Linked DNA regions of Homo sapiens. The protein of the gene in region 2 binds, or shares a complex with, the protein of the main gene of each other region. Each region holds a gene or a part of one and is shown on either strand. Other genes may lie near its edges. A codon is read from its position in the direction of its gene.

Evidence for each region.
Region 1: the proteins of RUSC2 (region 2) and RAB35 are in contact, whole or in part, in a crystal structure (PDB 6IF2), measured with the Homo sapiens proteins. Residues at the interface, in NP_001129471.2 of Homo sapiens: Val997, Lys998, Asn1001, Asp1005, Val1008, Thr1013, Arg1015, Lys1020, Glu1119, Glu1155, Leu1158, Leu1159, Gln1161, Pro1162, Leu1165, Leu1166; in NP_006852.1 of Homo sapiens: Asp4 (codon at 8,305), Tyr5 (codon at 8,308), Leu8 (codon at 8,317), Phe9 (codon at 8,320), Lys10 (codon at 8,323), Ser22, Leu26, Asp30, Ile38, Thr40, Val43, Asp44, Phe45, Lys46, Ile47, Lys58, Gln60, Trp62, Thr76, Arg79, Gly80, His82.

Annotation. Positions count from the first base shown.
Region 1 is NC_000012.12:120,108,736-120,124,945, reverse strand, and holds the start of RAB35 (ras-related protein Rab-35), read left to right. Parts: upstream 1-8,192; 5' UTR 8,193-8,295; coding exon 8,296-8,347; intron 8,348-16,210. UniProt on the Homo sapiens protein: The small GTPases Rab are key regulators of intracellular membrane trafficking, from the formation of transport vesicles to their fusion with membranes.
Region 2 is NC_000009.12:35,536,483-35,552,652, reverse strand, and holds part of RUSC2 (AP-4 complex accessory subunit RUSC2), read right to left. Parts: intron 14,697-16,170; exon of another isoform or gene 13,545-14,696; intron 6,224-13,544; 5' UTR 6,132-6,223; coding exon 4,118-6,131; intron 1-4,117. UniProt on the Homo sapiens protein: Associates with the adapter-like complex 4 (AP-4) and may therefore play a role in vesicular trafficking of proteins at the trans-Golgi network.

The DNA.
Region 1 (16,210 bases), on a different chromosome or scaffold from region 2:
ATGGTGAAACCCTGTCTCTACTAAAAATACAAAAATTAGCCGGGCTTGGTGATGGGTGCCTGTAGTCCCAGCTACTCAGGAGGCTGGGGCAGGAGGCGGAGGTTGCAGTGAGCCAAGATTGTGCTACTGCACTCCAGCCTGGCGACAGAGCGAGACTCCGTCTCAAAAAAAAAAAAAAAAAAAAAAAAAAAGGTGGGGGGGTATTGTTAAAACATGGTTCACGCAACCCTTCAAGGAACCAGACCTTCAGGTACATTCTCTTTGTCCAACACTGTGATGCGGGAGGACTTGGGAGAGTGGCAGGGAGGCTGCAGATTTGACAGTTTTGGGTGCAGGGATTGGAGACATTATTTGACAGATTTTGAAACACAATTGGCAGTTAGGAATGTTTTTCCTCAATGTATGGCTCTGTGGATGTGTCTCAGATTGCTTCAATAAGGAAAAAGAGGAACCAATCTAACTTAAAAGGTCTAAGTTCTAAAATATTGTGAAGGAAATGTAGATACCGCTTTAAAGTTCTAGTGCAGGATAGTGGAGCCACAGGGACTTCCAGGACAGGTTAGAACCTTAATTTCACTGCTTAATACTAAGCTGTGTGATCTAGACCATGTTCCTTAACCTCTCTGAGTGCATCCCCTCACCTTGACAGCGCAGTCTCACCGTGTTGTCATCTGTGTTGAATGACATAATGCACTTTGCACAGAGCCAGGCACACATAGGAGGTTCTGGATACATGGATGGTGACAGTGAAACAAGGATGATGGGGAATGAGATTGATTTTGAGAAATGATGATGATGACTATGTTTGATTCTCCAAAATGCTGAGTGTACATACATCAGCACACAGATGGTCTCCACTGTGCATGGGCAGGAAGGCACATTACCACCACTTAGATCGGTGCTTCCCACCGTCGTGAGAGAGAGAGGCCGGCAGGACGTGGTCTTTATTTTATGAAGAGTAAAGTTGAGGTACAGGTGGCAAGGAGCATCTCTGAGGTCACATTGGCAGAACTGGGAAAAAACCCATATTTCTTGATTCTCCGCTCACCAAGCCCCAGGGGCATTCTACAAAAATAATTTGGAAGGTGAATGTAACAAAAGTGAAACCCACGTTCTTGGCCTGTGACTGGGTTTCACTTTTTAAGAGATGGAGCCCAGTTATTTCACAGGGTGGCTCTGAGTTGCCCCTAGGTTCTGTTAGGAAGGGTCCCTGCTGCCTGCCCCAGGGGAAGGGGAGTGTTGATGTCAACACAGCTCAAGACACTGGAAAAACTGGTCTGAGGGATGATTGCCTCAGAGGGATTTCTAGGTGAGACCTTCCTGATTGTGCCTGAATGGATACCCCAGTCCCTGTCAGGTTCCCTCCTGTGAGCTATTTCTCTAGTGAGATGGCGGCCTGGTCACAGGGACAATTAGTGCATGATAATTCCTCAGGGCTGTGCCCCGCAGTCCCACAAGAGAAAGCTGTGGGTTTTGAATGTATTTACATTAGATCTTTCTTACCACTTGGGTTCCCACAAAAAAGGGAGCTAGGAAGCTGGGGTGCAGGATTCAATCTAGCATTTCGCAAATATTTTGCCCTCAAGACTCCTTATTTATTTACATGCAGGGTACTGCTCTGCCGCCCAGGCTGGAGTGCAATGGTGTGCTCATGGCTCACTGCAGCCTTGAACTCTTGAGCTCAAGTGATCCTCCTGCCTCAGCCTCCTGAGCAGCTAGGACTACAGCCACACACCACCACACCTGCCTAATTTTGTTTGTTTTTGAGATGGAATCTCACTCTGTCGCCCAGGCTGGAGTGCAGTGGCGTGATCTTGGCTCACCGCAGCCTCTGCCTCCCAGGTTCAGGTGATTCTTGTGCCTCAGCCTCCAGAGTAGCTGAGATTACAGGTGCCCGCCACCATGCCCAGCTAATTTTTTTTTTTTTTTGTATTTTTAGTAGAGATGGGGTTTCACCATATCGGTCAGGCTGGTCTTGAACCCCTGACCTCAGGTAATCCACCTACCTTGGCCTCCCAAAGTGCTGGGATTACACGTGTGAGCCATCGTGCCCAGCCTGGCTAATTTTTTAAATTTTTTTTGTAGAGATGAGGGTTTCACTATGTTGCCCAGGCTGGTCTTGAACTCCTGGCCTTGAGCCATCCTCCCTCCTCAGCCTTCCGAAGTGCTGGGATTACAGGTGTTTGTCACTGTGCCCAGCCGGGATCCTTTTATATTTTGAAATTTTTTTGAGGACACCAAAGAGCTCTTGTGTATACCTATCTTACCTATTGATATTTAGCATCTTAGGAGTCAAAACCAGGCTAGGCACAGTGGCTCATGCCTGTAATCCCAACACTTTGGGAGGCTGAGGTGGGAGGATGGCTTGAGGCCAGGAGTTCAAGACCAGCTTGGGCAACATAGTGAGACTGTTGTCTCTACAAAAAATTTAAAAATTAAAAAAAAAAAAAATAGCAGCCAGACGCAGTGGCTCACACCTGTAATCCCAGCACTTTCAGAGGCTGAGGTGGGTAGATCACCTGAGGTCAGGAGTTTGAGACCAGCCTGACCAACATGGCAAAACCCCGTCTCTACTTAAACAACATAAATATTAGCTGGGCATGGTGGCATATACCTGTAATCCCAGCTACTCGGGAGGCTGAGGCAGGAGAATTACTTGAACCCAGGAGGTGGAGGATGCAGTGAGCCGAGATCATGCCACAGCACTCCAGCTCCCACCTGAGTGACAGAGCAAGACTCTGTCTCAAAAGAAAAAAAAAAAGCCAGGCATAGTGGTGTGGTGGTGTGTACACCTGCAGTCCCAGCTACTCAGGAAGCTGAGGTGGGAGGTTCACTTCAGTCCAGGAGGTCAAGGCTGCAGTGAGCCATGATCGTACCACTGCACTCCCAGCTTGGGCAAGAGAGAGACTCAGTCTCAAAAACAAACAACAACAACAAAGCAAAACTGTTCAAGTGGCATTGTTCCACATTTTTTTAGGTTTCTAATGTCTGGATTCGCATGTCAGCTCTGCATTTGGTCTGTTGTATCACATGTCATGTAGGCTCTGGCAAACACTGTACAGTCATAAGCAAATGAAAGTGAAAAAGGCAAATCACATCTTAGTATTGTGAACATGTTTTGACTCTGAAGATCCTTTGAAAAGGTCTTAGGGAGCCCTGCGGGTCCTCAGACTACACTTGCAAAACCACTGATTTAATAATATAAAGGTTGAGTGAGAAAATTCCTGCTAAACGGTTTGGAGTCAGGGGAAGAAGCTGACCCTGAGTTAGACCCCAAGTTTGGCCCACACCCCAAAAAGTGAACTCAAGAGAGGGTTCAACTAATTGTATCTGACATTCTGTCCAACTCTCACACTGTGTGTGTGGCTTCACTTTAATTCAACAGGTATCAAGCACCTACCAGGCACTGGGTCTCCAGAGGATACAGATAAAGAGATGGTCCCTGGAATCATGGAACTTACATTCACTTGATTTCTGGGGGCTACATCAGGGCAGGGCAAGGCCCACTGCCAAGTCTCTTGGTGTGGCATCAGGCTTGCAGGTGTGGGAGAAAGGGCCCGTTTCCACTTCCATCAGAGGGAGACACCAGGCATCATATCATATCCTCTCTTCCTTCCCTCTTGGACCAGTATGCTGAGTGGTCCCCATCTTGCTCCTAATTTAAAGTCCCTGTCGGTCAGTTTACCTGCCTTCTCTGAGTTCTGATTCACCACCCACTGCTTCCTTCCTGGATGATCACAGCACACGTTCCCTCCCTTGCTACCTAGCACTCAGCAGCTTTGAAGTCCATGTTGCTGTCTGAAATAATGGATTTCACAGGTCCCTCCAACCTCCACTGCACTGATCTTCATCCCTGACACTGCTACCCTTGAGGGCCTGAGGTCCCCCTCTCCTTTACCCACTTAGCCTTCTGGTTGGTGACACTTTACTTCCCAAAGCTCTTTGAAGCGCCCTTAGCTCATCTTCCCTCCAAATATTCACTCCTTATTATTTCCTGGCTGCTAATCCTCTGCTTCCACTATCCTGAAAAATACTTCATGAGCCCCACTGCTCTCACCACCAAGCATTGTTTCTCTTGTCATCCACTGCCAAACTTCCTGCCACCTCTGTGGCTCCACTGCCTGCTTCTGCAAACCTCAGCGTGCTCCCTGCTTTACTTTTCTCCTTGGACATACTTGGTGCCTGTATTCTCTATCAGAATATAAGCTCTATGAAAGCTGGGATTTTAAAATTTTACTTACTGCTGAATCCTCAGCTCGTAGATCAATGTCTGGCATAGTAGGCCCTCAAGTATTTGTTGAATGAGTGAATGACTTGTTCCCCACTAAACTGTAAACTCCGTGAGGACAGGAGCTTTGTTTTGTTCATGTTCTAGCCTCTGTGCCCACTACAGTGCCTAACACCTAGTAACTGTGCAAATTTTTTTTTTTTTTTTTTTTTGAGATGGAGTCTCGCTCTGTCACCCAGGCTGGAGTGCAATGATGCGATCTTGGCTCACTGCAACCTCCACCTCCCAGGTTCAAGTGATTCTCCTGCCTCAGCCTCCCGAGTAGCTGGGACTACGGGCGTGTGCCACCACACCCAGCTAATTCTTTTGTATTTTTAGTAGAGATGGGGTTTCACCATGTTAGCCAGGATGGTCTTGATCTTCTGACCTCATGATCCACCCGCCTCGGCCTCCCAAAGTGCTGGGATTACAGGCGTGAGCCACTGCACCCGGCCACTTAATATTTACTGAATTAAGGATGAATCCAGTTACCAGGTAAATTACGTGATTTTTTTTTTTGGAAGCTGCTTTGTCTAGTTTATAAGTTTGCTTATTGTCTTTTGCATCTGTCCCTGCTGTTACCTTACACCCAGGCTTCAGCAATAACCTTTAAAGCTCTGCAGCTGAAATCCATCCTGCACCCTGCCAGATTACTTCACTAAAATATTTTGAGATTGCCTCTTTGCTCAAAAACTTTCAATGCCTCCTCATCGTATTAATAGTTTCTAATGTGCAAACAGGTGGTGTTGCAAAAGTTCATCTGTAAGTTAGCTGTTCAGAGCAGTGGAACAAAGTTTCCCATTACTGGACACACTGATCCTTTAGGTCACACAAGTTTACATATGTATACAGTGAGAAGGAGAAAGAAAGCTTAACATAACTCATCACTGAACTGTAGTTTAAATAAATGTCTAACAATGTTTCCAGAAGAAAATGTGCTGATTCATTTTGAGATGCCAGGCACATACCCTGGCCTGCAGGGAATTCCCCTCCAAGCCAAATGATGATTCTCATAGACTGTGACAGGGACTGTCTAAATAGACACTCAAAGCTCTCCTATTCCAGTGCCATCATGACATCTTTATGATAAAATCTTCTCCCCATCATTCTAACTAAAAGCTATAGCTTTCCTCCTCTGAAGTCTAGACTGCATATCTGACAGCTTTTCTATCTACTGTATTGTCTTATACTTTCAATTTCCTCATGAGTATGTCTTAACTCTTGATGAGGCTGTGAACTGGTGAGAAAAGGCTCTGTTCCTTTTTTTTTTTTTTTTTTTTTAAGACGGAGTCTTGCTCTGTCGCCTAGGCTGGAGTGCAGTGGTGCAATCTCGGCAACCTCTGCCACCCGGGTTCAAGCGATTCTCCTGCCTTAGCCTCCCGAGTAGCTGGGATTACCGGCGCCTGCCATCGTGCCCGGCTAATTTTTTTTATTTTTAGTAGAGATGGGGTTTCACCATCTTGGCCAGGCTGGTCTTGAACTCCTGACCTCGTGATCCTCCCGCCTCAGCCTCCCAAAGTGCTGGGATTATGGGTGTGAGCCACAGCGCCCGGCCTAAGGCTCTCTTCTTATAACCTCTGCAATCCGTGGCACATAAACACTCATTAAATAGTTACCAAAGAAATGAAGGAATTTATGCCGATTGCTTTCCAGATGACACATGCAGGCAAAGTCAGGAATCTGGTTTTAATGGCCAATTTGGATTTATTTCCCAAAAATATCCTACAGCCTTATTATCAGGAAGCTGCCTTGAAAATGTGTGCTAGAGTCTACAGTAGGAAATGGCTCAAAGTATGAATCAGTGCAAAATGACCTTGAGTAACATTGGTTACAGTCTGTCACATGCCTACATGTGCCAGGTAATTTACAAACATAACTCTAAAACAACCATTCTGTGAGGAAACGGGGGCTTTGAGATAGTGTGATGTGACTTACCTAAGATCACAAAGCTTTTAAGGGATGGAGGCCAGGATTCCAAAGCTAGCATTGGAACGAAAGTCTTCCCGACACCAGCCCAGGTTGTGAAGATGAGCTAGGAGGACCTACTGCCTCGCTGGCTGGTTAGGGCTGGGCGTGCCTCCCTGGTGGAAGGAAGGTACATACCTTCCTTCTCCCCCTCTATTTCCTAAAACTGCTGAGTCAGAGGATGGCCCTAACCTTCCCGACCAAGGGGGACTTTCTATCGGGAGCACATGAGCAGCTCTTCTCCCTAGCCAGTACCTTCAGATTCCAAGCTCATGTTATTTCGATATCACCACACTGATTCTCAGCTCCCGGAAAAACAACTCAAGGCTTGAGTCAGACACTCCATGTGTTGTTCAATGATCCCGCCTGCAACAATGTTTATTATAACCAAAAAATATAAACAGCATGAATGTCTATTAATAGCGGAGTGGTTAAATAATAGTACATCCGATGGTTATCGGATGGAGTACCATACCACGCAGATGTTAAATGATAAAAGTGTACTGTTAAATAGAAAAAGCAAGGTATGTACATATATGTTTGTACAGGCAAAGGAAATTCACTGGGGGGCACTTATTCATTCAACAAATATGTGTTAAGCATTTTAAGGTTACCTGTGAAACTAACAGGGGTTACCTGTGAGGAGTGCTTCAGAAGGAAAAATAGTAACTTGTACTTTTCAGTAAACTTCTGCACATAATTTTAAGGACGAACATTGTTTTTTTTTTTTGAGACGGAGTTTCGCTCTTGTTGCCCAGAATGGAGTGCAATGGCGAGATCTCAGCTCACTGCAACCTCCGCCTCCCGGGTTCAAGCGATTCTCCCGCCTCAGCCTCCCGGCATTGCTTTTTATAAAGTCAAAAGAAAAGGAAGTTTGATAAAACAAGTAGAACTATCCGATAAATACTCGCCTGGAAAGGGACAGGATTATAAGAAACAGGTAATAAGGAGCTTAAAACCCTCTGCAGTTCTGCAGTGAGGATGGTCGTGGGGGCATACAACTTTCCGTTTCAGGTCAGTTTAGGTAGGGCAGGTGGGAACTCACTCTAAAACGAGAAACCGGGGCTGATGACAAAATGCACACGTTTAGCTTCTGGCGGCCCAGGTCTTCCTAGCCGCAGATTCTGAGACGTGTATCTGCAGGTGGTGTGAAATTGAAGCCGGGGGAGCGGTTGCTTTCGGTCTCCGAGGTGCGCCTTGCACACTGGGTCATTCAGCTCCCAGGCTCGGCTCGGAGCTGGACCACTCCCTCCCCTCCACCAAAGAGGCAATGTGGGCTCCAAGAGGTCACAGCGCTGGGATGGGATTTCGACCCCGCGCTGCCCTCAAAGGCCACCTCCTCGCAGCTCTGCTCCCGCCGGCAGCTCCCGTTCTGTCCAACTCGGAAGCCGCCCGCCGCCCTCGGCGTCCACTCCACAGGCCCGGGGCCGGGGCCAGCTCCGCGGGGGAGGGGTCGGTGCGGAAGGGGCGGGGTACCGGGCCTTCCCCGCGCGACTCTGCCTTCTACGGCCCCGGCCCCTGCCTCTGGAAACCCGGAGCTCGTGCGAGCCCCGCCCCACGGTCGCGGCGTGCCTGTCATTTCCTCTCCGCAGGGCGTGCGGGTCTCGAAGATGAGGGAGCAACAACGTCCACGACCGGGCTTCTCCGGCACCTTGGGCTTCTTTCCGCTGGGACTCGACAGCGGCTCGGCTCCGCAAGCTCTCAGCGCCCAGGGTGGCGGCGACGACGCTCCCCGAGGAGACGCGAGGAAGACGGGCCCGCGCTTGCTGGGACTCCGTCAGGGCGCGTGCGCGACCCGGGCGCGGCCGGCTCAGGCTGCGGCTGCGCAAGGCGGTGCCAGACGCTGCGCCTGCGCAGTGGTGGGGCGGGGCGGGAAGGAGGGAGGCGGTGGTAGCGGCGGCGGCTGCTGAGGAGGAGGAGGGGGAGCGGAGGGAGGTGTTTCTGTCAGTTCCGGCTGTTTGTTCGGGAAGTGGATCCGCCGCTGCCGGAGCAGCCCGAAGGGAGCTGCGGATCGCGAGGCCAGTACCGACCCCGCCCGCCCGCGCGCACCGCCCCCGCCCGCCATGGCCCGGGACTACGACCACCTCTTCAAGCTGCTCATCATCGGCGACAGCGGTGAGGGCCGCAGCGGCCGGAGGCGGCGCGGGCCCTGCCGGGCGCGGCCCGCGGGGGCCTCGGGGCGGCAGGCGGGCGGGGAGGTGCCGGCCCGTGCGGGGCGGGCGGGCGGGGCAGCCCGGCGGTCTGGGCCCCAGGGGTGCGCCGAGGGGCTCCGGACCGCGCCGAGGGGAGGTTGGGGCGCGGGGCGGAGGGGCCAAGCGCGCCGGGTCCAGTCATCGCGCCTGTTCCTGCCTCACGTGTGACCTTGGTCAAGTCGCGCGATCTCTGGAGTTGGAGAGACGTGGGTTCGAGTCTCAGGACTACCACCTGCCTCGCGCTGACCTTGGGCAAGTTGCTTCGCCGTCCTGAGCCTCAGTTCCCTCATCTGAGAAGTGGGGATGTGCCTTGCTGGGTGGTGTGAGGATTCGATGGGATAAAGTAGGAAAAGTGCGTAGCGCCCTACCCGGTAAAGTAAGCTCGAAGTAAATGTTCACTATTGTCATTATCATCAGTATCCTTTATAAGCGTCAGTTTCTTCCCATCTAAAATGAGGACGTTCTCAGAACCTGCCTCATGGGATTGCCGTGAGGTTTAAATGAGGTAAGTCGGATAAAGGGCTTTGCACAGGGTCTGGCATATTCCTGCTGAATTATTATATCCCTGCGTGGTTCAGTTTCCTCATCTGTAAGATGGAATGATAGTTGGATCTGCCTTATGGGGTTGATGTGAGTATTAAGTGAGATTCTGCAGTGTTGCTCACAGCTCCTGGCACATAGTGAGTTGTCACTGTTTGCTGTTACACTACTATATACAGAGGGGTCCTGGGGATGGGACAGCCAAAATTATAAAAGTGCTTTGGCCACACACACACACTGCTTGAGGGCTCCTAGCTCTGATCACTGCTCTAGCTCCAGTGCCTAGAACAGTGCCTGGCACCCAGTACATGCTTAAGACATATTTGCAGAAGGAATTAATGAATATTAAGTGTCCTTCGAAAAGGTAGACTGGTTTCTGGGAAAAGGTGGAGGGTTTTAGAGCTGTTTGGAGTGTGGCAGGTGAGCAGGTTTATGGAGTGACCAAGAGGTCAGGAAGGCAGGCCCCAGAAGGTTTATGGGAGCGAAACTGAGGTGCTGGGGTTATATGATGTTCATGAAAGAGTCTTGGGAGCATGCTCAGTTTGTAGACCAGACCTGAGCTGAGTGTGGGGAGGGATGTCTTATGATTGGAGGCAGAGGCCAGGCTGGTGGTAGAGCCCATGGACTGTTAAGGAAAGGGGATCAAATCAAGTGAGCGGTATGACTTGGGATGTAGGAGTGTTGGGTAGCGATGTCAGAGCTAGGTCAGGGAAGTGGGTGGTTTTGGCCTCCCTTTTAAAGCTGGATGGAGATGTGGTTGGTGGTTTGGATCAGGTGAAGGATGGCTGAGGTTTCCGTGGTTGCTGGAGGAGGGGAGAGGTAAGGGGGAAAGCTGGGGGCTAACCAGGGAGATGGAAGAGTAACTGAGGTTGGGGAAGGAGGTAGAAAGGTGGAGTACTGACTGGTTATGGTTTGAATGAAGGGAAACCAGGCAAGCTCTGGAGTGTTCTCTTGGAGATGGCCTTTGGTATTCTTCAGGGTCTTGAGGCTTCTTCCTTTACATGATTTCCTTGCAGCCCTGGCCTGGGTTCTGAGGGACTGGCACTGGGGCCATTTCTCTCTTTTTGGAGTGACAGCCCGCCGTGGTCAGGAGCCTTTATCCCTCTGCAAGACATCTGGACCTCTGCGTTGATATCCAACAGTGAAAAGCCTAAACTCAGCAGGAAGATGCAGCTTGTTGGCTCTTCTCCTCTGTAAAGCCCAGGGGATGGGTTTGGCCCGCTTTCTCACAGTACATTTTGTGTGATGAATTGATTTTTCTCTCCGAAGTCAGGTGTGGGAGAAGACTCATTGGGTCGAGATTTATGTGGTCTAGCTCCTAGGTCAGCCATGTAGGCGTAGGTTGTGCAGAGGAGATGGATGCTGTGCTCTTTGATTTCTCCCGACATTGAGATCCTCAAAGCTGGGAGATGGTAGCCATGGAAGTCCAGACTAAGCTTTGGCAGCTGAGCCCAGAGACTGACATTACACACTCCCCTGAACTGGGCTCCTTGTGTGAATGCCTCCTTAAGATATGTTGAACGATTTCACAGACGCTTATTCTCACCCGCCCCCTGTGTGATTTGTCAAATAAGGAAACTAAGGCTTAAGGCCGGGCGCGGTGGCTCACGCCTGTAATCCCATCACTTTGGGAGGCCAAGGCGGGCAGATCACCTGAAGACAGGAGTTTGAGACCAACTTGGGCAACATGATGAAACCTCGTCTCTACTAAAAATACAAAAGTAGCCGGGCATGGTGGAATGTGCCTGTAATCCCAGCTACTTGGGAGACTGAGGCAGGAGAATCGCTTGAACCTGGTAGGCGGAAGTTGCAGTGAACCAAGATCGCACTATTGCACTCCAGCCTGGGCGACAAGAATGAAACTCCGTCTTAAAAAAAAGGAAACTGAGGCTCAGAGGAGGTGACTTACTTGCCCCAAATCACATAGCTCAGCAGGGGCAAAGCCGGGAGCCACTGCATCTCAGTGCTAATACGTGTGCGAGCAGCTCATGTCAGGGCTGGCAAACAATAGGCCCTCCATGAATGCTGGTTTCTTTCTTCATAAATCTAGAGTTCTGCCCACTCTGCACATTGTGGATGCTTCTGCAATGGATTCCCTCAATCTCTGCATCCCTTCGTTATGCCGGAGGTTCTATATTTTCTTTTTTTCCTTTTTTTTTTTTTTGAGACGGAGTCTCGCTCTGTCGCCCAGGCTGGAGTGCAGTGGCGCGATCTCGGCTCACTGCCGGCTCCACCTCCCCGGTTCACGCCATTCTCCTGCCTCAGCCTCCCGAGTAGGTGGGACTACAGGTGCCCACCACCATGCCCGGCTAATCTTTTGTATTTTTAGTAGAGACAGGGTTTCACCATTTTAGCCAGTATGGTCTCTATCTCCTGACCTCGTGATCCGCCCGCCTCGGCCTCCCAAAGTGCTGGGATTACAGGCGTGAGCCACCGCGCCCGGCCAGTTCTGTATTTTCTATACTTTCCCTTATACTCTCTGACACTGGCTTTGATTTGTAACAGCATGTCGTCTGCATCCCTCAGGCCAGCCATCCTCATTTGGAGATGGAGTTAGCCCTTCACTTGACAGATGAGTAAATTGAGGCTCAGAGAGGGGGCGTGACTTGTGTGAGGTTATACAGTGAGGTGGTGGCTGAGGCAGGTTTAAAATTGAGAACATGGCTGGGGGCAGTAGTTTGTCCTAGTGCTTTGGGAGGATGAGGCGGGAGGAACACTTGAACTCGAGACCATAGTGAGAGCAACATAGTGATAGCGAGACCCCATCTCTTAAAAAAAAAAAAAAAAAAAGGCCGGGCACAGTGGCTCACACCTGTAATCCCAGCACTTTGGGAGGCCGAGGTGGGCAGATCACCTGAGGTCAGGAATTCGAGACCAGCCTGGCCAACATGGTGAAACCCTGTCCCTACTTAAAACACAAAAAATTAGTTGGGTGTGGTGGTACGCACCTGTAATCCCAGCTACTCGGGAGGCTGAGGCAGGAGAATCATTTGAACCCAGGAGGCGGATGTTGCAGTGAGCCGAGATCGTGCCACTGTACTCCAGCCTGGGGGACAAGAGCGAGACTTCATCTCAAAAAAAAAAAAAAAATCAGTTGGGCGTGGTGGTGCACATCTATAGTCCCAGCTATGTGGGAGGCTGAGACAGGAAGATTGTTTTAACCCAGGAGTTCAAAGTTACAGGGAGTTAGGATCACACAACTGCACTCCAGCCTGGGTGACAGAATGAGACACTGTCTCAAAAAAAAAAAAAGGTCCAGGCACGGTAGCTCACACCTGTAATCCCAGCACTTTGGGAGGCCGAGGTGGAGGATCACTTGAGCCCAAGAGTTTGAGACCAGCCTGGGCAACATAGGGAGGCCCTGTCTCAACAAAAAGAAGAAAATTAGCAGGGCATGGTGGTGCACGCCTGTGGTCTCAGCTACTTGGGAGGCTGAGGTGGGAGGATCTCTTGAGTCTGGGAGGTTGAGACTGCAATGAGCTATGATCACGCTGCTGCACTTTAGCCTGAGCAACAGAGCAAGATCCTGTTTCAAAAAAAAAAAAAAATATCGAGAACAGTTCACTGAAAGGTCAGGGCTCTTCAAGAGGTTGAACTGAAGCAGAGAGGAGTGAGGGGGCCATAGCCCAGGCAGGAGCAGGAGGAAGGGAAGACATGTGTGTGGCTTGCGTGGTGAGGACCAGATACAGCAGCCAGGGGTAAAAGGCCGGGAGCAGTAGCTCACTCCTATAATCCCAGCACTTTGGGAGGCCGAGGCAGGCGGATCACTTGAGGTCAGGAGCTCGAGACCAGCTTGGCCAATGTGGTGAAACCCTGTCCCTACAAACAATACAAAAAATTAGCTGGGCGTGATGGCGGGCGCCTGTAATCCCAGCTACTCCGGAGGCTGAGGCAAGAGAATCGCTTGAATCTGGGAGGTGGAGGTTGCAGCCAAGATCGCGCCACCGTACTCCAGCCTGGGCGACAGAGTGAGACTCCATTTAAAAAAAAAAAAAAAAGAATGACAGGCTGGACTGGTTGGGGTCATGCTGATGTGCCCTTGGGCAGCCTCGGGGGTGGCTGTGGTGAAGGTTGGTGGGTGCCCTCTGCTCCTGCCCTGACACTGATGGTGTGGGGTAATGGCTGCAGCTTGTGTTTCCGAGGAAGCCTCTTCCAGGGATATTTAGGAGGTAGTGTTTCTTGGGGTGGGTTTCTGTTCCTCTCAAAGGGAGAGCAGTGTCAGAGGTTGGTGTCAGGTCCAAAGCAGCAGATAATGTGGTGATGGTTGTGGTCTTTCTGCAGCCTAGTGGCTTTTTTTTTTTGAGATGGAGTCTCGCTCTGTCGCCCAGGCTGGAGTGCAGTGACACGATCTCAGTTCGCTGCAACCTCCGCCTCCTGGGTTCAGGCGATTCTCCTGCCTCAGCCTCCCGAGTAGCTGGGATTACAGGCACGCACCACCACGCCCGGCTAATTTTTGTATTTTTACTAGAGGTGGGGTGTTCATCATGTTGGCCAGGATGGTCTCGATCTCTTGACCTCGTGATCTGCCCACCTCGGCCTCCCAAAGTGCTGGGATTACGGGTGTGAGCCACTGCGCCTGGCCAGCCTAGTGGCTTTTAACTGCTCTGCCGAGACGCCTGGGGACAGTATGGGGACCTGGAGAGGCCAAGCTGGAGGGGATACTGCTGTGTCATTGCAGAGAGAGCTGTTTTACACATGGGATTTGGGTAAAGCTTGGATGAAGAAAAGGATTCTGCTGCCCTGCAGAAGTTTGGAAACCCCTGCTTAGGCGCCTGCTGTGCTGCAGTGGGAGCGCTGGATAGCAGAGCTGTCAGTGTGGCGGGCGTTCGTTTAGGCAGAAATTCATTAAGCAGTGTTTGGTTGGCACCTACTAAGTGCTGGGCCTGGCTTACAGCACTGTGAATGCACAGGGCGGGTGAGGCGAGGGCTCTGTCCTAGAGGAACTCCCAGACTCAAGCTTTTAGCTGAGTAAGCTGGACCCAGAAGGCTCCAGGAGGAAGCAGAGGAGGCGGCGAGGCCAGTGGGGTGCTGGTGTTGGGCACAGCGCCGTGAAGGACCCAACCCGGGACTCGGGCTCTCCTTGAGCTCAGCAGGAAGCCTCACGGCGGAGCAAGGAGGAAGTGGCCCTGAGCATGAGCCCTGCAGGCCCAGGCTGAGCAGCGTCTGCCTGCCCAGGAGAGCCTCACCCTGGCCTGTCTTTAGGAAAGTAGGACCCAGGCTTACTCAGTGAAACAAGTTCTTCTGGGCATCGTGGGGCAGCTCACTCACCAGGAGAAGCTCCCAGAAGAGATCTTTAGAGGATTGCCCAGAGAGGATGCTGGGGTTAGGCTTAGGGAAATACAACTGCGACAGTGGTTTTCCGCTTTGGTTACTTGGTAGAGTGCAGGTGGAGGCAGTGCCCTTCTTGAGAATCTATTAAAATTGTGGAGCCAAATGCAGTGGCTCAGGCCTGTTAGCCCAGCACCTTGGGAGGCAGAAGCGGGCAGATTGCTTGAGGCCAGGAGTTTGAGACCAGCCTGGGCAATATAGTGAGAGGCCATCTCTACAAAAAATTTTTAAAGAGTTTGCTGGGTGTGGTGGCGAACACCTGTAGTACTTGGGGATTTCAAGGTTAGAGTGAGTTATGATCGCACCACTGCCCTCCAGCCTGAGAGACAGAGTAAGGCCCTATCTCTCCAAAAAAAAAAAAAATGCTGTGGGCTTCTCCCATGAACAGACACCTAGGCTCAAATCTGCACTTTGTTTCAGGGGGTTTCATAGCTTTCGTGGCATTTTCATTAAAAATCTAACAGGAGTGAGATGTTGGAGCCCCCACAGGTCATTTTTTCCAAACTTCCTGAACCAGACGCAAGACTCCCAGCAATGTGTATTGGGAGGAGTGTTAGCACTCTGGAGGAGTCCGGCCTGGATGCAGATCTCAGCTTTACTGCTGCTCACAGAGGCACTTAGGCCGGCCACTCTGGGCCTGAGGTTCCTCATCTCAAGAGATGTGGCCAGAATTATAATCAAAGAGGCATCCAAGGGCTCACCACACACACAGCCCGATGCATGTGAATTCTTTGTGGTCAATTAACTTGGCTGGCCTCAGGGGTGTTGGAGATTGGGGACAGGATAGGAGGACATGGAACAGGTGTACTTGGCAGGCTGAAAGCACTGTGAGTTGAAGTCAAGGGGAGAGGTCCAGGCGCAGTGGCTCATGCCTGTAATCCCAGCGCTTTGGGAGGCCCAGGCGGGAGGGTTGCTTGAGGCCAGAAGTTTGAGACCAACTTGGGCAACATAGCAAGACCTCGTCTCTACAAAAGATTAAAAAAAAAAAAAAAAAAAGCCTGGGCAACGTAGCCAGACTCTGTCCCTACTAAAAATAAAAAAATTAGCTGGGCATGATGGTATGCACATGTGGTCCCAGCTACTCGGGAGGCTGAGGTCAGAGGATCACTTGAGCCTAGGAGTTGGAGGCTGTGGTGAGACATGATTGCACCATTGTACTCCAGCCTGAGTGACTGAATGAAACCCCATTTTTTTTTTTTTGAGACAGAGTTTCGCTCTTGTTGCCCAGGCTGGAGTGCAGTGGCATGATCTCAGCTCACTGCAACCTCCGCCTCCCGGGTTCAAGTGCTTCTCCTGCCTCAGTCTCCCGAGTAGCTGGGATTACAGGCATGTGCCACCACGCCCAGCTAATTTTGTATTTTTAGTAGAGACGGGGTTTCTCCATATTGGTCAGGCTGGTCTTGAACTCCCGACCTCAGGTGATCCGCCTGCCTCGGCCTCCCAAAGTGCTGGGATTACAGGCATGAGCCACCGCGCCTGGCCTGAAACCCCATTTCTTTACAAAAAAAGTGGGGGAGGCCAGATGTGTACATGTTTGTGCTCTAAGCAGCCAGGAGCTGCTGTGGCTGGTGCATGGTCTGAGCACATGTGGGCTGCTGCCCTGATGGGTATAAGGCAGACCCTCCACTCCACCAGCCCACCCGGCGGGGACATCAGCCAGAAAGATGGTAGCCATTGAGTTCTAGCTATGTGGGCCTTGGTTTCCTCACCTGCAAAATAGCCCTGATGATCTCAAGGGTCCTTTCCCGCTCTACAGCTCTTCATTTTGGGCGGCTCCCTAACTGATGTGCTACAACGTGCTGTGCACTTTTCTAGGGACCATGTTGTAGACGCACTTGGGGGCCGTTTCGTGTGGTTGACCTTCATTCTGCTTTGTCGTCTGGCATCTCCCTTTGGGCCAGCCCTCAGCCTAGGGCCT
Region 2 (16,170 bases):
CGGAGGAGTGAGAGACTATCCACTCTTTCTTTCTGGAGTCTATGAATGAATCCAGTCATCTTAACTTTTTGGAAGCTCTACCAACTGCTGACTCAATCTGAGTTTGCAATCAAATATCCCAAATCAACTCAAGTGCAGGTTACATATCAAACTTCACATTGGTCTCTGCTTTATTAGTTTTGTTCTTTCAAGATTCAGTAAGATCCCTTTAAATCTTGATTCTGCTGCTCAGTATCTCAAAGAGCCGTCTCAGCTGCCTTTTTTATTTTTATTTTTTAATTTACTTTTTTCTGAGACAGAGTCTCACTTTGTCACCCATGCTGGAGTGCAGTGGCGTGATCTCAGCTTACTGCAACTTCCGCCTTCCAGGTTCAAGCGATTATTGTGCCTCAGCCTCCCGGGTAGATGGGACTACAGGCGTGCGCCACCATGCCTAGCTAATTTTTGTATTTTTAGTAGAGATGGGGTTTCTCCATGTTGGCCAGGCTGGTCTCGAACTCCTGGCCTCAAATGATTTCCCCACCTCAGCCTCCCAAAGTGCTGGGATTACAGGCATGAGCCACCACACCTGGCCTACTTTAATTTTTTTTAGAGACAGGATCTCACTTTTTGCCCAGGCTGGGATGCAGTGGTGCAATCATAGCTCACTGTGCCTCAAACTCCTGGGCTCAGGCGATCCTCCTGCCTCAGCCTCCCGAGTAGCTAGGACTACAGGCATGTGCCATCACTCCCAGCTGTTTTTAAATTTTTTTTTCTGTAGACACAGGGTCTCACTATATTGCCCAGGCTGGTCTCAAACCCCTGGCTTCAAGTGATCCTCCTGCCTCAGCCTCCCAAAGTGCTGGGATTATAGGTGTGAGCCACCATGCCCAGCCGACCTTCTCAGCTTCCTATACTGTCATTCCTAGATTGGATCAACCTGTCCCTTCTTTTGTCATTCAAAGCTTGATGAATTGTCATTCATTTTTGATTTAGAAAAAAGCTGTACAGAATCAAGAGAAGACTGGAGACTTATGGAACAGAGCAGCATGTTGATATGTCTTAATCTGATAGAGAAAACACATCTCTGACCAGGATATTTCTTGCCCTCAGAATGCCAGTCATAGTATCCCACGAGATGCACCCAGCAGACAGACACTGCAGTCTAAGGGAGTGGGTTCAAAGGACCCAGTCAATCCTTGCTGTTTCTGATCCTGCCCCTTCCCTAGAGATCTCCCTCCCATGCCCACCCCAAGGACAGCTCTTCAGTGTATGTTAGGAACATGAAGTCTTCTGATGGACTGTGATCTCCCTGACAGCACAGATATTATTTATGGTTTTAAAACATTTTCTTTTGTGAAGCCAACAGACCCAACCTAAGGCTACAGCACAGCTGTGAGCCTCTGCTATCCCTGCTTTACCTCCCTTTCCTTCTAAACCCTCTGAGATCTGGCTTCCACTCTCACTACTCCTGAATGTTGCCTTCAGGATTCTTCATTATCTTAGGTGATTTCTCTTTAGAACTCTTTTGGTTCAAACTTTTTTTAAACTTTCTCCTCCTTTGGTTCCTGTGACTTCACTCTCTCCTGGTTTTTCTTTTTTTTTGAGACGGACTCTCACTTTGTCACCCAGACTGGAGTGCAGTGGCATAATCTTGGCTCACTGCAACCTCTGCCTCCCAGGTTCAAGCGATTCTCCTGCCTCAGCCTCCCATGTAGCTGGAACTACAGGCACCCGCCACCACACCTAATTTTTGTATTTTTAGTAGAGATGGGGTTTCACCATGTTGGTCAGGCTGGTGAACTCCTGACCTCAGGTGACCCGCGCACCTCGGCCTCCCGAAGTGCTAGGATTACAGGCATGAGCCACCATGCCCGGCCTCTCCTGGTTTTTCTTCTATTGTCCTAATTCTTCTGTCTCTTTTGAGGGTGCTGCTCATCCCTTAAGTCACAGTATCCCCTTCTTCCCTTTATAACTCAACACATTCTCCCTGGATCCTCTCTCAGCCACACACATAGCTTCAGCTACCACTTTTGTTTTTTATTTTTGAGACAGAGTCTCACTCTGTTTCCCAAGCTGGAGTGCAGTGGCATGATCTAGGCTCACTGCAACCTCTGTCTCCTGGGTTCAAGCGATTCTCCTGCCTCGGCCTTCCATGTCGCTGGGATTACAGGCGTGCACCACCACACCCGGCTAATTTTTGTATTTTTAGTAGAGATGGGGTTTCACCATGTTGGCCAGGCTGGTCTTGAACTCCCGAACTCAGGTGATCTGCCTGCCTCAGTCTCCTAAAGTGCTGGGACTATAGGTATGAGTCACCACGCCCAGCAAGTGCCAGCTACCACTTTTATTCCAATGACTTTCCAATCTACACAGTGCTTTCTCCTGACTTCAGGAAGACACCCCTTCCAGTCCATCTTCTACCCAAACAACCAGTGATCCAATTACTTTTTTTTTTTTTTTGAGGTGGAGTTTCGCTCTTGTTGCCCAGGCTGGAGTGCAGTGGCGTGATCTCGGCTCACTGCAATCTCCATCCCAGATTCAAGTGATTCTCCTGCCTCAGCCTCCAGAGTAGCTGGGATTACAGGCATGCGCCACCATGCCTAGCTAATTTTTGTATTATTAGTAGAGATGGGGTTTTACCATGTTGGCCAGGCTGGTCTTGAAAACCTGACCTGAGGTGATCCGCCCGCCTTGGCCTCCCAAAGTGCTGGGATTACAGGTGTAAGCCACTGTGCCCAGCCCAATTACTTTTTTTTTAAACAAGGCCTGAAGGAACAACCAACCAGTGATCTTTCTAAATGCAAATCAAAACATATAATTAAGCAGACAGAAAAACCAAACCAAACAAAAACAAACAAATGCCAAAAGCCATTTCTCTAAAATTTTTCAGTGGTTCCACCTGTGTTCCACTATGGCTTCACCAAATTATATGCAGTTCCTAGAAAGGGTCAAGCTATTCTGTGCCTTTGTGGTTTTGTACAGACAATCCTGTGAGCCTAGAACATTCTTCTTACAAGTCGTCACAAAGCCCAATCCTAATCATCTTTCTAGATTGGGCTTAAATGTAACTGCATTAGCAGTTCCTCCCTGACGTTTCAGTCTGATTTACATACCCCTTTCACTGGCCAGTACGGAACACTGCCATCTCTGCATTTTAATGATCAACTACGTTTTCTGTTTCTGTCCTTAGCTGGAATCCTTGAAAACAGAGTCATCCCTCTCATCTCTCTGTCACTAGCACCACCTTAACACACTGGTATAAAATATTTATTTAAAATGTAACAAAATAAATAGGGAAAGAGCTGGCCTAGGGAGGCCACTGCACTCCAGCCTGGGCGAAAGAGCAAGACTCCGTCTCAAAAAGAAAAAAAAAAAAACTTCACTGACGCCCAGTGTGTGTGTGTTGTTGTTGTTAGACATATCCCTTGGTTGCCCCTTAGGCACTGCAAACTCCTAAAGGTCTGAACCTGAACTTTTCTTCCAGGAAATCTCCTGTGATTACAGCCCCTATCCATGGCCTCATCTTTCCCATCATCCAGGTTCAGAATCAGTCTTCTGAATCCTTCATTTCCCAATATGTCAGCCTCTAAGTCCTGCTGATTTTATCTCCTCAGTGTATTTATTTATTTTTTTTTTTTGAGACAGAATCTCACTCTGTCTGCCCAGGCTGGAGTGCAGTGGTATGATCTCAGCTCAGTGCAACCTCCACCTCCTGGGTTCAAGCAATTCTCCTGCCTCAGCCCCCTGAGTAGCTGGGATTACAGGTGGGTGCTACCACTCCTGGCTAGTTTATTTTTTATTTTAGTAGAGCTGGGGTTTCATTATGTTGGCCAGGCTGGTCTCAAACTCCTGACCTCAAGTGATTCGCCTGGCTTGGCCTCCCAAAGGGCTGGGATCACAGGTGTGAGTCACTGCACCCAGTCTGCTCAGTGTATTTTTGAGTCCTCTGTCTTTCTCCAGTGAGCCTATTCCACTGTAGCTGTGGGTCCTGCCCTGGCCTAGAAGGATAACAGATCTAGGATGTGGAACCTCTAGTGGTATGGATGGGGTGGTCTGGCAGGGACCTGTCAGGGAGGTGGCCATGCATATCCTGCTGGTGAATAGCCACATATTTGCTAACCCTTAGGCTCCTTACCGTCAGCTCTAGCTCTTGCATCCCTCTGGGTATGGCTGTTGGCTGGGCTCCCTGGGAGAGCAGGCCCTGGATCCATCAGCTGAGCCAGGGGGCCTTGCCCAGTAGCTCTGAGGCCAGCAGGAGGCATCTCACTGGAGTGGGGTCCCTGACAGACCTGGGTGGACCAGGGTGGACTTGGGTCTGGGCCAAGTAGGTCCATGCCTGGCCCCAAAGGCATGGGTGGCAGGCTATGGCTACAGCAAGTGCCCTCATCCAGTGGGGCCCCCCGATCTTGCTGGGCTTCTTGGATGGGTGAGAACTCCTGGGAGGAGTCCCCAACACTCACACGAAGTGGGGGCGAGCCAGAGCCTCCAGTTTTCTTCCGGCCCTTGGCCAGCTCGGCAAAGGAGGTGACCCTCCTGGGTGGGGAGCCAGGCCCGGCCATGGCTGCAGGGCCCTCACTCAAGCGCACTGGGCAACTCAACATACGTTCCAGCGAGCCCAGGCGGACAGGAGGGCTGCGCTGCAGGCTGCGATCATAGCTGCGGGAGCGCTGACGTCCAGTGCTGAGGTTGGGGGGTGAAGTATTCGTGTATACTTGTCCCTCAAGCACAGTGGGGCCCACAGCAGCTGCTGCTTGGGTGGAGGAACTCACTGCTTCTTGTTCCTCTGGCTGGACTTCTGGCTTCTGGAATAGGTAATACTCAGAGGGCTGGCTGGGGCCTGGGTCTGGGCCAGGGCCTGGTGGGGGACTTATCTTGGTGTGTTCCTCAGAGCAGCTAGTGATGGAAGAGCCAGCAGGGCTTGGGGATGATTGGGAAGATAGGTCACAGGTGACAAGTTTATAGTAATTTTGTGTGGCCACAACAAGACGGGCCTGGCTTTGGAAGCAGGCTGTGAGGTCAGCCACTGCTGGGCACGGCTCACAGTGTGGGCGGTAGGAGTTGCAGTTGGCATCAAGCTCAGGAGAAGAGGCATGAGGGCAACCATAGCCCCCTTCCCTTCCTCCACTTTCAGGGTGATGGGACTCATAAGACATCTTAGACTCAAATGGGGAGGGCTGCAGATCCAGATAGAAGGCGCCAGGGTCTGAGTGGCTGCAGAAGGAAGAGTCGCTGCAGGACTGTGGGGCAGAGTTGAGATTGGCACGGGGGGTGCCATGCATCTTGTTGTAGAGGGTGCTGAAGGTGACCAGCACACCATCTGAACTGTTGCAGGAGGAGTCGCTCACATAGCCCATGGACTGGTCAGCTGCCTCGGACTGACTGGATGTGCTACTGCAGCGGCAGTGCTGGTCCCCTGAGCCGGAGCATCCAGGGTTCCTTGGGGATTCATCTGAACTGAGCTTCCATTCCTGGTCAAAGGAAAAGCCAGAGGTATCGCTGGCTCCACCCCCACTGCCACTCCCACCAGGTCCCCCACACTCATCCAGCTCCATAGTCTCTGCTTCCAGCTCTGGCCGGCAGCAGTGGCTGGTGCCGCACTGCTGAGTATCCAAGGTCATCACTGGCTCCTGTTCCTGCCCTTCCACCACTCCAGCCCGACTGCGTGTTGTCCCCCATGGCCTGCCCACTCTGGGGCCAGATGGTGGCAGCTGGAAAGAGGATAGATGAAAGTTGGGCTGGCCAGTGCCATGCAGGTGGAAGGACTGCTGGGTGGCACTGTCACCAATGCTGTCATCATACAGGTCACCAAGTCCTGGCTCACCCACACCCTCCTGCAGCAAGAAGGGGTTGTGTCGTTTGGGGGCTCCAGGGCCTCTTCCATCCCGACTCCTACTCTTGGTGCTGTCTATAGACCGTGCAGTTCCTCCTGGAGTAGAGTGCAGGCTGCTGAATAGCAGGGAGTCAGCTTGTCCTAGGTCTTGATCGGGCTGGGTGATGCCCAGCTCAGGTGGGCAGAAGGGATTAGGTCTTGTGCTCCCACCACCTCCACCTGCCCCTCCACAGCACTGCCTGTCTGGGACTTGGCAGTGCACCAGGGGGATGTGATGAACGATGAGGGTCTCTCCAGTCAGCTTTGGGGGACTATCCATTCTGGAAAGTTCGAATAAGGGCTTCAACAGCACCAGACACTGTCCCTGGAGCCCAGTGGGGCAGAACACATTTCATCAGGAGAGCTTGGCACCTGGAGAGAGAGGGAAAGAAAGGGAACCTAATGTCACCTCCCTGGAAGTCAGGGGCATGCCCTTCCCTACATCATTTTCAGATGGAGAAGAGCCCAGGAAGAGAAAAGGCTTGAGTCAAGATGGAGCTTGACCACACAGCCCAATAGGCAGGTGGGGACGTAACCATGCTTTCTGCATTGCACAGGTGCAGCACCTGAGGTCCCCCTTAATTTTAAGGTCACTATGCATCAAATTATGACAAAAGGCCAAGTCCTTCTAATGCCACATATGAAGGTTTGGGCAGTACTTTCCCTTTCTCTTTCAAGGACCCTCTCCTTGGCAGTAAACAATGACCAGTCCTTAGCACAAAAAAACTATGAATAATGACACAATTAAGAAAAAACCATCTAGGATGTTTAAGGCTTAGACACAGCTATAGCACACAAGTTTACAGCCAAGAGGGAAAATCATGAATAATATGAACTCATAGCAATAAGCTATAATTTTGCAAGAAGCATTTTAAAATATACGGTATCATCTGACCAAGTGACTGTTATCTCTGATCCCCTTTCTCGTCCTACAAGCCCCAGAATATTTGTCCCTTTCTGATGACCGTGGGCTAAGTATCCTTACTATCCTCACTACTATACTAGAACTTCTTGAATGCAGACACTGAGTTGGGCATTAGGGTGACTGCAAGTATGACTGATGTCAACCTCTTCCTCCTCAATGGGGGTGGGGGGACCTAGTTTTATGTCTTTTGTATCATTCTAACACATCACACAAGATAAACGTGAAAGGCATAATACATTCTTAACATGCGTCTAGCTCAGGATACAGACATCCTGAAGTGCCCAAATGCTGCCCAGTTTTAGCTTAGAACCTTCACTACTGGGATCCACTAGAAAGTCTTCTCTTCCCAGTTTTACCTCTTATAGGCTAAAGCAAAGTTCTCTCTTGTTCAAGGTCTCCTGGTGCCAAGGACACAGAACCCATCCTGAGCTTCTCTGGTCTCTTGGCTGCACCGTGGCAGTGTGGCCTGCTCAAGTTCTAGTCTCCTGTGTTTCCACGTTCAGGTCGCAACAGTCTTCATTCCCTTCGACTCCTCACATGTAATGTTCCAAAATTCATTCATTTCCTTTCTCTTTTTATTCCTATCATTTCCTTTTCACTCACCCTGAGTCTAAATCCCTCATTGCCTTTCTCTTATTCATCATTTAACTGAATCCTTGACACAATCAATTTCTTAAAATTTAACTCATGTAGACCATAGGGTCATAGCTCGTCATGTGGAATGTGGTAAAGTCTGAGGCAAGTCACATATGCTCAAGGACATGAACAAACAATGCATAAAAAATATGGCTAATAAGTATACGTATAAGGGACAAGGTATTAAAATATAATTGTGTTAAATTTAAGCAGCAATTATTTACAATCTTGCTTCCTCCTCCCCTTTCTGAGAGGAAGGCAGGCTCCTCTGTTGAACTTCCAAGCCTTTGTGTGTTTAATGGGCTAATGGGTAGAGATGTAGAAGGGCAGATATTAAGAGAGTCTGAGCTACAAGATTAAGGGTTACAGAAGAAAACATAGGAGTAAATCTTTGTTATCTTGGATTAGGTGATGGTTTCTTAGATATGACACCAAAGGCACAAGTGACAAAAGAAAAAACATAAATTGGACTCCATAAGAACCAAAAACTTTTGTGCTTCAAAGGATACCACCAAGAAAGTGAAAAGACAATCCATAAAATGGGAGAAAATATTTGCAAATCATATACCTGATAAAAGACTTCTAATCAGAATATATAAAGAACTCTTACAACTCAACAATAAAAAGACATACGAGGCTGGGCACAGTGGCTCACGCCCGTAATCCTAACACTTTGGGAGGCCGAGGTGGGAGAATCATGAGGTCAGGAGACAGAGACCATCCTGGCCGACATGGTGAAATCCCATCTCTACTAAAAATATAAAAATTAGCTGGGCGTGGTAGTGCATGCCTGTAATCCCAGCTACTTGGGAGGCTGAGGCAGGAGAATCGCTTGAACTAGAGAGTCAGAGGTTGCAGTGAGCTGAGATCATGCCACAGCACTCCAGCCTGGTGACAGAGTGAGACTCTGTCTCAAAAAAAAAAAAAAAAAAAGACATATGATCCAGTTTAAGACAGGGCAAACAGTATGAATAGGCATTTCTCTGAAGAAGACATACAAGTGTCTAACCAGCACATGAAAAGATGTTCAACATCATTAGTCATTAGAGTAATAAAAATCACAATGAGATACTACTTCACTCCAGCTGGGAGGGATAAAATAAGAAATACAGACAATAACAACTAGCAAATGTTGATGATGATATGAAGAAACTGGAACCCTGAAACATTGCCGGGAGTATTGTAAAATGGTGCAGCTACTTTGGAAAAGTCTGACAGTTTATCAAAATGTTAAACATAGTGTCATCACATGACCCAGCAACTGCACTCCTGGGTATATACCCAAGAAAAATGAAAACATATGTTCACACTAAAGCTTGTACACAAATGTTCATAACAGCATTATTCACAGTAGCCAAAAAATTGGGCACAATCGAAGCCAGTCACAAAGGGCTTTTGTGATGTTGTATGATTCCATTTATATGAAATGTCCAGAATAGGCAAATCCATAGAAATAGAATGTCCTGAAATCAGGCCAGGCGTGGTGGCTCATGCCTGTAATCCCAGCACTTTGGGAGGCTGAGGCGGGCGGATCATTTGAGGTCAAGAGTTCAAGACCAGCCTGGCCAACATGGTGAAGCCCTGTCTCTACTAAAAATACAAAAATTAGCCAGGTGTTTGTCACCATTTTTGTAAATAAACATGTCTGTATGCATAGAAGAAAATCTGTAACATGCAACAAACTGTTACCAGTGCCTATCACTGTTGAATGATTTGGATTATTTTTAATTTTATTCTTTTTGCTTCAGCTGTATTTTCTAATTTGTATGTAATAAATACCCATTTTATGCATAATTTAAGCAATTTTTTTCTTTTTTTTGAGACAGGTTCTCACTCTATCACCGAGGCTGGAGTGCAGTGGTGCGATCATGGCTCACTGCAGCCTCAGCCTCTTGGACTCAAGTGATCCACCTCAGCCTCCTGAGTAGCTAGGACCACAGGTGTGTGCCACCACGCCTGGCTAATTTCTGTATTTTTTGTAGAGACATGGTTTCTCCATGTTGCCAAGGCTGGTCTTGAACTCTTGGGCTCAAGTTATCCACCTGCCTTGGCCTTCCAAAGTGCTAGGATTACAGATGTGAGCCACCATGCCGGGCCTAAACAATTTTTTTTCTTTGAGGGGGTTTCTCCTTTCATACATAACTACGTTTCCCCTGGAGTCCTGGCCATAATCCCGAGTCTGGACTAAAAGGAGCATAGAGAACTTTCTTACATAGATAGCAGTAATTTTAGGGGTACCTATGGGTTGCAGCCATCACTGACCTTCAATGAGTACCTTTTCTTCCTTTTTAAAGCATTTTCAAGAGGCATTCACAAGTATCACATAAAAGAATGTATGATTCTGCCACAAAACCATTACCAGGACATACATGCATTAATATGGAAAAACTGATGTACAGATACAGAATGCAGAAAGCTGACTCTCTAAATCAGAGATGAAGAACACATGAGCGTGGGAGATGACGGAGCCCTTGGCTGGAGGGCACTGACAATTGTATTGTAATGTGATGTTGACATATCTATCTCCCAGACTGGAGCACAGTTCTGAGGTTGGAGACTGCAATACAGTGAACTCTGTGCTTGGAACACAGTAGGTGCCTGGTTATTTGTTGACTACTTTTCCCATTAAAATAACCTGAGTTGTTAGTCTTTTTATGATTGAATTATAGGAGTTTTAACATTTATTCTGGATACAAGTCCTCTGTCAGATATATGCCTCATGAATATTTTCTCTCAGCCTGTGGCTTGTCCCTGTTTTCTTAACTGTGTTTTTTGATAAATAGTTTTTAATTTATTAAATTTAAATTGATCAATTGATCAACTGATCATAGAGTTTGTTTCTCTATGGTTAAATCTTTCTGTATCCTAAGAAATCTTTACCTGTCCTAAGACCATAAAGAAATGTACCTATGTTTTCTTCTAAAAGCTGTATAGTTGTAGCTTTTACATTTAGGTTGTATTGAATCCTACTTTAACTGTCAAGCTCTTTCACTGATTGATTTCATTTTATTTTATGCTTTTGTATCTCAGAGAAGATCTTATTCCTTTCTGATCTCCACACAACCAAGAGAAAGGCCGAGCAATGGCTCCTCCATAGACGATTCCAATTCAGCCATCTAAGGGGAAGTTCTCCAGGCATCTCATGAGATTTTGTACTCATGCTTTGCCCACCCCATTCACATTTACTTACAAGGCACTTTTTATGTATGCATATCTTACTGATCCTTACATCAACTTCCAAAGGAGGCAGAGCCATCTTCATTTTTAAAAATAAGGAATTATTTTTATATTTATAAAATTTTAAAAAATGTTATATGATATAAAAATAATTTAAAAAAATTTTATATATATAAAAATTTTAAAATAATTATACACCCAGAAAAATGAAATGACTTGCCCAAGACCACTCAGTGAATAAATAACAGAATTAAGATGAGACTCAGGAATCCTAACTTTTGATCTTTTTTCTTGGTCAGTTAAGAATATAATGAGAGTAGACCTAGCATGGGGGCTCACACCTGTAATCCCAGCACTTTGGGAGGCTGAGGCAGGTGGATCATGAGGTCAAGAGATTGAGAACATCCTGGCCAACATGGTGAAACCCTGTCTTTACTGAAAATACAAAAATTAGCTGGGTGTGGTGGCACGCTCCTGTAATCCCAGCTACTTGGGAGGCTGAGGCAGGAGAATTACTTGAACCCAGGAGGCGGAGGTTGCAGTGAGCCGAGATCGTGCCACTGCACTCCAGCCTGGGCGACAAAGCGAGAGTCTGTCTTAAAAAAAAAAAATGAGAGTAAACTGTACATATGACACCACAGAGAACATTTACTGAGAGCGTATCTCAGGCTCCTTTCCTGGGAGTGACTTTTTCTACATCAAGACAAGTGGCCCATCCCCTCTAATGAAGGTGAAGAGAAAACAGTGAGCTGGAAGAGCTCATTTCAGACTTTTTCTGCCCTGACTAAATGGAGAGACATGGAAGATGAGGATGGGGGAGAAACAGAGGATCCAGAATAAGAAGAAAGTAGAAGACAGCTCTTTCAGAAGATGAGCCCTCTAGCTATGCCTACCAGGTAGAGTGGAATGGTGGGCTCAGCCAGTATAAAGTTATGAGGTCATGCTCTCCAAAATCAGGAAAAGCTTTCTATGAGAGCCCTTTTCCTGGCCCTTGTCCCAAATGGGTGTCTCTTGTCCTATTATAATACTATAAGTGATCATTTATTAAACACTTATGTGCCATTAATTTATATATATCATCTCTAAATGTACTGTAACATTTTTAAGTAGGCATAATCCTTCCCATTGTAAAGATGAGAAAACCAAAGCTTAGAGTGTGTAAGTAGTTTGTCCACATTTACACATCTGAGATGGGATTCAATCCCAGGTCTGCCCAATTTGTAATTATTTCCACTACAACGGCCTTCCAAAGAAAATGATTGGGGCCACACCCTCTTCCTAAAGTCCTTGCAATTACTCTGCTCCCAGAGCATCTGCTTCCTACCTGTCCTGGGTAGACCCACATTTCAGCCTCCATTTACACAGGTTATGTCTACCGGCCTCTCTATTCTATGAACCTACAGTCCCTTTCATACTGTCCCCAGGCTATGATAACACTTGCCAATCCCACCTCCTGCCCCAGTTCCCAGCCCTCATCTCCCTGCCCCATTCATGGTCTCAAGGCTCATTATTCCCTGCTCTTGTGGTTCACATTCCTAGACACTTCCTGGGAACAAATACACTCCCATAACTATCCAGCATATTCCTTAACCATATAGTTGCACAACATGGCACTACTGTCTCCTATTATCCTATGTTTTTGAACCCTCTACCAAGGTGGTTATTAGAAATGGGAATTTTTTTACAATTATTTTTTACAGACAGAGTCTAGCTTTGTTGCTTAGGCTACAGTGCAGTGATGCGATCATAGCTCACTGCACCTTGAACTCCTGGGCTCAAGTGATCCTCCCACCCAGCCTCCTTAGTAGCTGGGACTACAGGTGCACACCACAATGCCTGGCTAATTTTTAAATTTTTTGTAGAGACAGGGTTTCACCATGTTGCCCAGGCTGGTCTCAACTCCTAGGCTCAAGTGATCCTCCCATCCCAGCCTCTCAAAGTGCTGGGATTACAGGTGTGGAAATGGGAATTTAGGGAACTCTTTCTACCTGCTCAGCAATGGAGCAACTCTGGGCGGGAAAACCCCAGAAAGAAGGTTTCCTCTAGCTTTGGTCATCAGTGTCTTTCTGCCAGTCATAGAACCCCTTCCCTCTTTTTTGGCCTTCTGAATAAAGATGGGGAACACAATGGTCTTCAATTGCTCTTCTCTAGCAATCTGACCTTGACTTGAGATCCTGATAAGGTGCCTCTGTAGGACTGATAACGCTTTTCCTGACTGGTCCTCTCCTGGGTAGGATCAAAGGGAGGAGGGCAGGAGGGTAGATTTGGGAGTGTTAGCTTATGCTTAGGTCTCTTCTTGAAGGCTTACTGTAACAGATCAGGTGCCCTAGGCATTACAATGACTGTCCCTGCCCCTGCCAGACACTGTGGGGCACCCTGGTCAATGTTTTCTTACTCCACCCTTACCTGGAGCCTGGTGGCTCCCATAGCACCAGAAGATATGGTATGTGTGTCTATGTGCATGTATAGCTATGTGCATGCATGCATGCATGTATGTATGTATGTGTGTGTGTGGAGAGAAAGGTTTCCCAGCCCTCCTCTTGAAAGCTGCGAGGATCCTTGCATGTTCTCCATCATAAACTTACAGTAGCTGTAGGGGTGTCTCCTCCTATTAAGCCTTTGTTTCTAGATCTGACTCCCCCATCCCTGACCCATACTAGAAGCTTCATTAGAAATGCCCAAAAAGGAAGGATGAGATCTGCTTCTTGACAAAATAGCATAAATGGCATTAGCCCAAGCCTTGGCTTTTCCCCATCTCTGCACCATAGCCCAAATGTATGCAATGAGCTTGTCTAATGCTTGTGCTTCCGCATGTTCCCCCCTTTATCCCCCCCCGCACCGCCCCCCTCTCCCTTTTGGAAAGACAAAGCCAACCCTCAGAAGCCAGGGCCCAAATGTGCTGATCGGTATCCTAGCATCTCTGCCCTGCCCCTCCCCCAGCTCCCTGAGCCATACCTCTGTCAGGAGCCTTGAGCTGGACCCCTGATGCGTCTGTCCCTTTTGCACTCCGACCAAGCTCTACCGCGACAGTTCCAGCTGAGACACTGTTCCACGGGATCACACAGGGGAACTGGGCCGATTTCCTAAGATCTGATTTCTGCTAATACAATGGCATCGTTGCTAATGCAGGGAGGCTGCGCAATCCCAGCCCCAGTCTCCGTGCTGCTGCCGCGGCTGCTGGTGCTGCGGTGACGTTGCTGCTAAGGGAAGGGGGAAGGGAAAGGAGCAGGCAGGCCCACAGCACAGCCACTCAGCCTCCCTCCCTTCCAGCCCCTGTGGGCCCTTTAGCCTAGGGAAGGGGGAGGGTAGAGAAAGGAGCCAGCCACAGAGGGCAGTCAGTGCTGGAAGATGGAGCACTCTTAAGACAGCAAAGGAAAAATGGGGAGAGTTGTGTCTAGCTCCTCTTTTGTCCTTAGGCATCTCAGGGAAGATGTCTGGGCAGAGCCTTGGAGCTTCCTTCCTTCCTTCCTTCTTTAGGCTCCTCCTTTCATATCTTAACCAGAAACCTCTCCCTCCTCTTTTTGCCCATTGTGAATGACTCTGTTTTCCAGCTTTTTCCTCTAACCAGGATTCCAGACTAGCCTCAGGGTGGGGCAGTCAGCCTGGGAGGGGATTCCTGAAGCCCAGAAGGGAGGCTGCAGGGACCAGTCACCATTCTGCCAGCAGTAACTCGAACTCAGTCCTGGTGGATGGCCCACGAGTCTTAGCACTGGCCTTCCTAGAGAGACGGGGCGGTAGACAGGCTTCTGTACACTGGGTGGTGGTAAGTCTTAAGGACCATGGAGGCTGCAGGCCCTCTTCCTAACACGGTATTCAATTCAGTTCCCTGGGTCTTCAGAGGTCTACTCGCTGTGGCTGAAGTAGAACTGGCCCCTCTCACATACATCAGTTCTCGGTCAGTGCTCAGCTGGGTCCAGCTGGGTTTGTGTGAAGGCAGAATCCCTCTAGCCAGGCTGAGAGGCCAGGAAGCTTATCTCCCCAGGGAAAGGAAGGCAGGGAACAGGGAGTGGTCTCTCCTAGGCCACAGAAAAATCTCAGTTCTGCCTGGAGACCTACAGAGTCCTCTGCTCCTTCCCTGCTCCAGCCTCCTCAGGTTCTGGGCCAATTCTGTGGGAATAAGGAAAAAAGGGAGAAACTGCAGCTAGAGCCAGTTGTACAGGAAGTAGCGGTGAGGTCTCCGTCCACTTTGTGCCACTGCTCCCTGCTGCTACGCTTGAACACAGAGATAGTCTTAAGCAGGGCTTGGTCCCCAAACACTAGCCCTGCCTAGGGTTCCTCCCAAGGTGACTACTATCTGGACTCCACAGCCTGCCCTTGGATTTCAGGTCCTTAGAAAGAAGCCTTTGGAGAAACCACTGGCCAAGACCATAACAGCTATCCCTCAGGATCCAGAAGAGATGTAACTTTTCTTTTCCTTTCTTGTTTCTCCTATTCCCTGTGACACCCATGTGTCCACTGACACCATGCTGAGCTGAGTCAATTGTAGAGAGAAGAACAAAAACACACAAAGACACAAAGACCCATCTCCAGCCTTGACTTGTTTGAGCAGCCATGGCCCCTTGATCCTATAAAGCAAGAAACAGTGAGGAAAGGAAGGAAGGAGGGAGGCTGCTGTTCATAGCCAACCATTAGCGGTCATCTCAAGGAGGCTGAAAGGTGAGGAAATGGTGTCACTATGCTTTCCTCTCGCCTAGCTGATACCACAAAGCGGGGTTGGATAAGCATCTGTAGGTTAGGGCAGAGTGAATCTTCATGACCAAGCGTTTGGAGTTCGAGCCTCTTACCATGAGAGCTCTGGGCCCAGGGTCTTTGACTCTGAAATTTCTGCGAGGCTAAGTCATGCATTGTGCTGGACAGCCAGTGCTTCCAGTTGCCTATGGAAGGTGGCAGCTCTCAGACCTCTAGTGCTTGGCTTAATTCACTACATCACAGACAACCTTGCCACTTACTTCCTAACCACTACTGCCAAAGATCTAGGGTTTTGAGGAAAGATCAAATTATTTTCCAGCCAGAAACAAAACACAAATACTGTTACATTATAAACCTCGGCCACCTAACTAGTCTCCCCACTTGCAATTTACTTTTTAGTACTACCAGATTCATCTCCCTAAAGCACCACCTTTCTTCAACATGCCACTCCTCCTGCCCCTTTTAATGGTTTCTCATTACCCAGAGAATCAAGTTGAGCCTCCTCATTTTGGCTTTAGAGGTCATCCATCTCGGCTGTCTATTCTTTTTTTTTTTTTTTTTTTTTTGAGTTTCACTCTTGTCATCCAGGCTGGAGTGCAGTGGCGCGATCTTGGCTCACTGCAACCTCTGTCTCCCAGGATCAAGTGATTCTCCTGTCTCAGCCTCCCGAGTAGCTGGGATTACAGGCACCTGCCACCATGCCCCGGCTAAGTTTTTTACTTTTAGAAGAGACGGGGTTTTGCCATGTTGGCCAGGCTTGTTTTGAACTCCTGACCTCAGGTGATCCACCCGCCTCAGCCTCCCAAAGTGCTGGGATTACAGGTGTGAGCCACCGTGCCCAGCCTTGGCTGTCTACTCTACTCCACTCAACCTTGCCTTCCCATCATGCAGT